Linked DNA regions of Homo sapiens: region 1 is linked to region 2. The links come from fine-mapping of genetic effects on gene expression. Tissue or cell type: monocytes after interferon gamma. Region 2 holds a variant in brackets; the other region holds the start of a gene. All regions are shown on one strand. Distances are between the middles of the regions.

The links. PIP is the estimated chance that this variant, and not a neighbour inherited with it, causes the effect. A credible set is the group of variants that fine-mapping cannot tell apart.
Region 1: it holds the start of PAUPAR, and the variant in region 2 is the best candidate, but not a certain one, in a credible set for the expression of PAUPAR in monocytes after interferon gamma (Fairfax 2014, PIP 0.67).

Annotation. Positions count from the first base shown.
Region 1 is chr11:31,825,289-31,828,052 of GRCh38, reverse strand. It overlaps PAUPAR (PAX6 upstream antisense RNA), which reads right to left and starts at 1,486. Exons shown (of 1, transcript NR_117094.1): 1 at 1-1,486. The region is part of intron 1 of PAX6-AS1 (PAX6 antisense RNA 1); the gene reads right to left. RefSeq lists an enhancer at 813-2,237.
Region 2 is chr11:32,555,599-32,558,362 of GRCh38, reverse strand. No RefSeq gene overlaps it. Among named protein-coding and RNA genes, the nearest start is that of EIF3M, 27 kb to the left of the region's middle. The variant C/T (reference allele first, on the strand shown) is at 1,211.

The sequences.
Region 1 (2,764 bases), 730 kb after region 2:
AACGATCGGAAAGTAGCAGTGACAGAACAAGTCCTTAAAATTCGACAATCACTAGGGCATACTTCATTTCATCACACAAATAGGGAGTTGAAAGGTCGCCACTAGTTCTATGGGTTTCCTCAGCAAGACAGACTCTTTAACACCCAAGTTTTGAAAGTATGAACTACAGTATTCCACAGATGATTGTGCCTGGTGTTTAAAAGGCCCCTGCAGAGGTCTAGTCAAAATATTTACATTCCTCTCTGAAACTGTAATGCAAAGGAAAAGGGAAAAATCGTGAGAGGACAAATCAAAAGAAAAACTTTCCTTCCCCGGCAACAAGAAAAGGTGTCAGGCCGCTGGGTCTTCTGCAGACAGCCCTGTTCTCTTGGTGTAGATCAGGTGCCCATCACACACTTTTCCAACGGACGTACATCTATAGCAAGGTGCATTAGCTGCATTCCGTGTCAAAATTAGGGCTGTATCCATTTCTGAACACATGTGGTTAACAGAAAGCCTCATCATCCCGCCGTAAGTGGGTGTGTTTAATTGTCCATGCGTGTTCCCCGAGGCGCTCCATGGACGCTGCAAATAGATGGGTGAGTGATGGGCACATATATTTTCTCCATAAAGTGCAGCCACTGGCTCAAAGTGAGGCAGACTCTGGCAAGGAAGAGAGTTCGAGGCTGGGTGGCGGCGAGGATGGGATGGGGGTGGGGAGGAGGAGCAGGAGGGGGCGATGATTAGCGAAGGAAATGACCCAACTCCCTCCCTTCTGTTTTCACAATCTGCGTCACACTCCTGTACGCTCCCGGCCCGCGGCGGGCGAGCGGGCGGCCGCGAACGCCGGGTCAGGCCGGGCACCAGCCTGGCGGTCGCCTCCCAAGCTCCGGGTCCGCCAGCCGCTCGGCTGCCCGCTGTAGGCCCCCTAAAGAAGCCGAGGTGGGCACTCGGCCTGGCGCCTGGGGGCCGAGCCCACGACCAGCAGAACTTCTCCCAACCCAGCGCCTCTCGACGTGGGACCGGCTGGGCTCACTGGGCTCGGGGCTCCGGTCGGCGAGGAGGCGCCGGGAGCGGGGAGTGGAGACTCTTTGGTCTCCCGGGCTGTGGCGGTGCAACTCCCGCCGCCTGCGTTCTAGACAGAAAAGCCCCTTCTGACCATGCATTAGTAGTACTACTCCATTATTCCTGTTAGAACAAGTTAAAAGTAAGGGTTGAGCCCAAAGGCCCCAGGAGGGGGGTCATGTGCGCCCCAGTCACTCAGGCTCCCCTCGCTTCTCCGGTTCGAGTTATGCCATCAAGCTAATATATTGTGACTGCTCTTCTCTCCTGTGACAAAGGCTTGCAGCTGCCTCCAAATCAATAGATGTCAAAGAAATATGAAAACAATCATGACACAAAACTTAAATCCTGGCTGGAGCCTACATAATCAGAAATGTGCTACTGTTCTTCAAGCCACCGATTAATTTATCCCAAACTTTAGTCAAATTTTTATTCCGGTACCTTTTTCCCAGCAGATCCTGCTACGTCTGTCGGGTTTGTAATGTAATTTGTAATTACTGCCCTTCATGTGGTCCGGTGCCTTGAACCATCTTTAATTAAAAGCATAATTAAGGGAAGATCTAAAGAAAGACAATTACCAGATGGTCTTTTTTTTAGAGGCGGTAGTTGCGCAGAGAGGGGCTCGGGGTCTGTCCCCGGGACCCCACGCCTTGGGAGGGGGCGGCGGGCCCGAACGGCGCCTGCGCACTGAGGAGGCCTTGGCCTGGCTTGCACCCCGGGTCCCTCCCTCACCCCACCGGGCCACACCCCGCCACACCCCGCCCTGGCCCTGAGGCTCCACCGAGGCCGCGCCCAGAGGTGAGCGCCAGCGTCCCCGCCGTGCAAAGAGACTCTGGCTTTCTTCGCTTTTCCCCGGGGGGTAGCGGGATGTGGGGGTGAGTCCCCAGCAGGGAGGCTGGGAGAAGATCAAGGCCGAGGCAACTTTCAAATCTGCGAAGGGGCCCCCGATCCGGGCCCATCCCGCCCTGCACGCGAGCCTGAGAGCTCTGAAGCAGAAAGAAGGAAAGGATGCGAGGGCTGGAAGGGAGACGAAGGAATGAGAGAAGAGCGTTTGCCCCGCCAGATGACAGCCTTGGGAGGAGGCCCTGGCCTAGGTCCTCCCTGACTGGGACTGACTAGGGTGGGAGCTGGGGGATCCTAGCCCTGCGGGCCTGGGAACCCCTGGGACAAAAAGACAGCCGGGGAGCGCCGTCGACCGCAGCCCCGTCGGTCAAAGTGGCCCCTTGACAGCTATTCTCTCGGCTTTCGGTTCCTCGGTGTCCATTGGTCCCCGGGATTTTCAGAATAAGTTCGGGGGAGGGGAAGAAACCCACTCTCCACTCCTATCCCATCCCCACGTCCCCGAAATGAATAATGCAGGCAGGAGCCAAGATTTCTGCATTAGCGCCACGTTGCCCCGGCGGCTGGCGCTAGGATCCCGAAGTCGGATAATGGAAATTAAACTGTTGTTGTGTGGCGGGGATGTCATTATGTGACTGTTCATATTCAAAGTCAGGCAGCAATGAATTGTAATCATTTCAATTATCTTCAATACACTTTCTTTAGGACACAAGTTGTCAAGGATAAAAAAAAAAAGTACATTCTTGCGGCTCCGTGGGTCCATTTTCCAGATGGTTTGTTACTCTTGCTGCCTGATTTAGTTTCGGCTTTTATTCCCCAGCCTCAGATTCTCTTGCAGAGACTCCGCCGGAGTGAGCGGCTTCTCTGGCGCTGCGGGCCGGCT
Region 2 (2,764 bases):
AAGAACGCTACTATTTAGAAAGAACTTGGACTGATGCTGAGTGCTGAGTGCTAATCTATCGTGTCTACCACTTGGAAATTGGAAGTTACATGGATCGGGATGGAACAAAGATTTCTTCCGAGCATATCTGTTTGGTCATAGCTAAAATCAAACCAGTTTGTTTACATTTATAAAACCACAGATTTAGCCTTGATGTTTATCCCTTAAATGAACTGCCTCCAACCACGCACACATAAAGTACAATACCAATAACAGTGCCCTCCTCTTTTAAAAATGTTGTATAAAGATGGGCCAAGTCTAAATTGGCTGAATTTATCTTGATATTTGAAGTGTCAAAAAGCATCTTATTTTTTCCAAAAAAAAAAAGGGGCATTATTTCCACTGCTACTTGCACAGCAAGCTTCAACGGTAATGACAGAGTGTCTCCCGAAGTTAAATGTGAGGCCTTAAATAACAGCTGATGAAAATACCTTCTGTTTAACACATGCAATCATATGTCATGCTTTTGGCACCATATAAGTTTGGTTAAATAGTGTTTATAATGTTACAAAATAAAAGAATCATTTTCTCAGGTTGTCCCAGTAAAATGCGGTTAAGTAGGCCATTACATAACAAATTATTATCTCATGTAACCATCGATAGTGTTAAAGGTAGGATTTTGTTTCTTTTTTTCCTTTTTTTTTTTTTTTTTTTTTTTGAGACAAAGCATTGCTCTGTCACCCAGACTGGAATGCAGCAGCACGATATCGGCTCACTGCAACCTCTGCCTCCCAGGATCAAGTGATTCTCCTGCCTCAGCCTCCCAAGTAGCTGGGATTACAGGCATGCGCCACCACACCCATCTAGTTGTGTGTGTGTGTGTGTGTGTGTGTGTTTGAGACAGAGTCTCGCTCTGTTGCCTAGGCTGGAGTGCAGTGGCACAATCTTGGCTCACTGCAACCTCCACCTCCCAGGTTCAAGTGATCCTCCTGCCTCAGCCCCTTGGTACCTGGGATTACAAGCACGTGCCATCATGCTTGGCTAATTTTTGTATTTTTAGTAGAGACAGGGTTTCGCCATGTTGGCCAGGCTGGTCTTGAACTCCTGACCTCAGGTGATCCACCTGCCTCAGCCTCCCAAAGTGCTGGGATTACAGGCATGAGCCACCTCTCCTGGCCTTTTGTGTGTTTTTAATAGAGACAGGGTTTCACCACATTGGCCAGGCTGGTCT[C/T]AGACTCCTGACCTCAAGTGATCCATCCGCCTTGGCCTGCCAAAGTGCTGGGATTACAGGTGTGAGCCACTGTGGCAGGCCAAGGTAAGACTGAATTTAAAGGAGTGGATTTAAAGGAGCTTCTCATCAGAAACTAAATGGGGTACCAAAACTGAGAGAAGGAATGGAGTTTAGAATCTTGTGAAATTCCAAAGCTCAAAAAGCCAGGAGATACGTGTGGGTGGATCTTCAAACAGAAGAGACAGTAGCATAACTAACATAACTGAAGTCAGGATGTGGAGCCGAGAATCTGAGACCACAGAGCGAAAGATGACACAAGTGATGAGACAATCTGGGACCCAGGAGGCTACTGCTGTTTGTGCCTTCTTTTCATGAAGAGTTAGGTCATGGTGCCTGGTGAGTTAAACAAAGGGCCAAGGTAGAAGGGACACCCTTGGACAACCAATGCTCCAATAAAATAATACATTTTTGATAAATATAGTGGAAAACTTACTGAGGTGATAGACATTTTTTAAGCCATGTGGATAGTATCCACCCAATAATAAGCAATTTAACACTCAAGATGCTAAGTTCAACGTCTAACTACAAACCAATGAAATTCAGAAGCCTTGTATGTTTAACAAAGTTGCAGAATAGATGACACCTATACCTTGTGATTTATAGCTAATTGGCTGGCTGGCTGGCTGGGAAACCTCCGTTTCCCAAAACGTTCCTCCCATTTACCATTCTACCACTAGAGATTTATTCCTCAGGTCAAGGTATCACCGCAAGCAGCCTCTTTTAATATGCATATAAACCACACTGAGGATTAACATGTTGGTTACGATAACAAAGGCCATTTATATAGAGCTGTGCAGTTTTCAAAGCATCATCATGTACGCGTTCTATATCACTTTTCTAACATCTATGGGGAGGGGTCAATGAGGAAATTGGAGCTTTGATAGGGATATGGGAGGACTAATTTGGAAGCTTGGGGCATGGTCAGAGGTGACAGCTTGGCTGGGGAGACACATCAAAGGGCTCCAGGCATCGCAAGGGTGGTCAGAGCCACCAGGGGTCTGAGAACACCAGAGAGGGAGCGCTGCAGACAAGAGCACACCCCCGATGACTTCACTACTTCACTACTTCAGTGTCTGTGCCCTCGACTCACAGTGAGCTGCTGCCCTATTTGCTGCGCTGCTGTATATGACTTTGATCTGCTCTCTCAGTGCCCTTAGCAGCACCATGGTCCCTTCTATTTTCAGAGGCAAATCCAGCATAGATTGATTTCCAGTGGTGAAAATGGGACAATGTTTTTGTGATGGAAGAGTGTAGTGGAGGCTATTATATTATGGCTACAACGCTAGTATTTGATGACTTAATTCATGAACTTTTCTTTGACAATTTATGCTTGGAGTTCGAAAGACTTTTTTGTGATCATCTCAGTATTTTAGTAGCAAATCATATTCTCTAAGTACTAGTTATTGGCAGGCATTCTTGTGGCCTTTTGGGAGTGAAGAGACCAATAAAAATGTATTTTTTAACACAAGGTGAGCCTTAATAATGGATAAAACC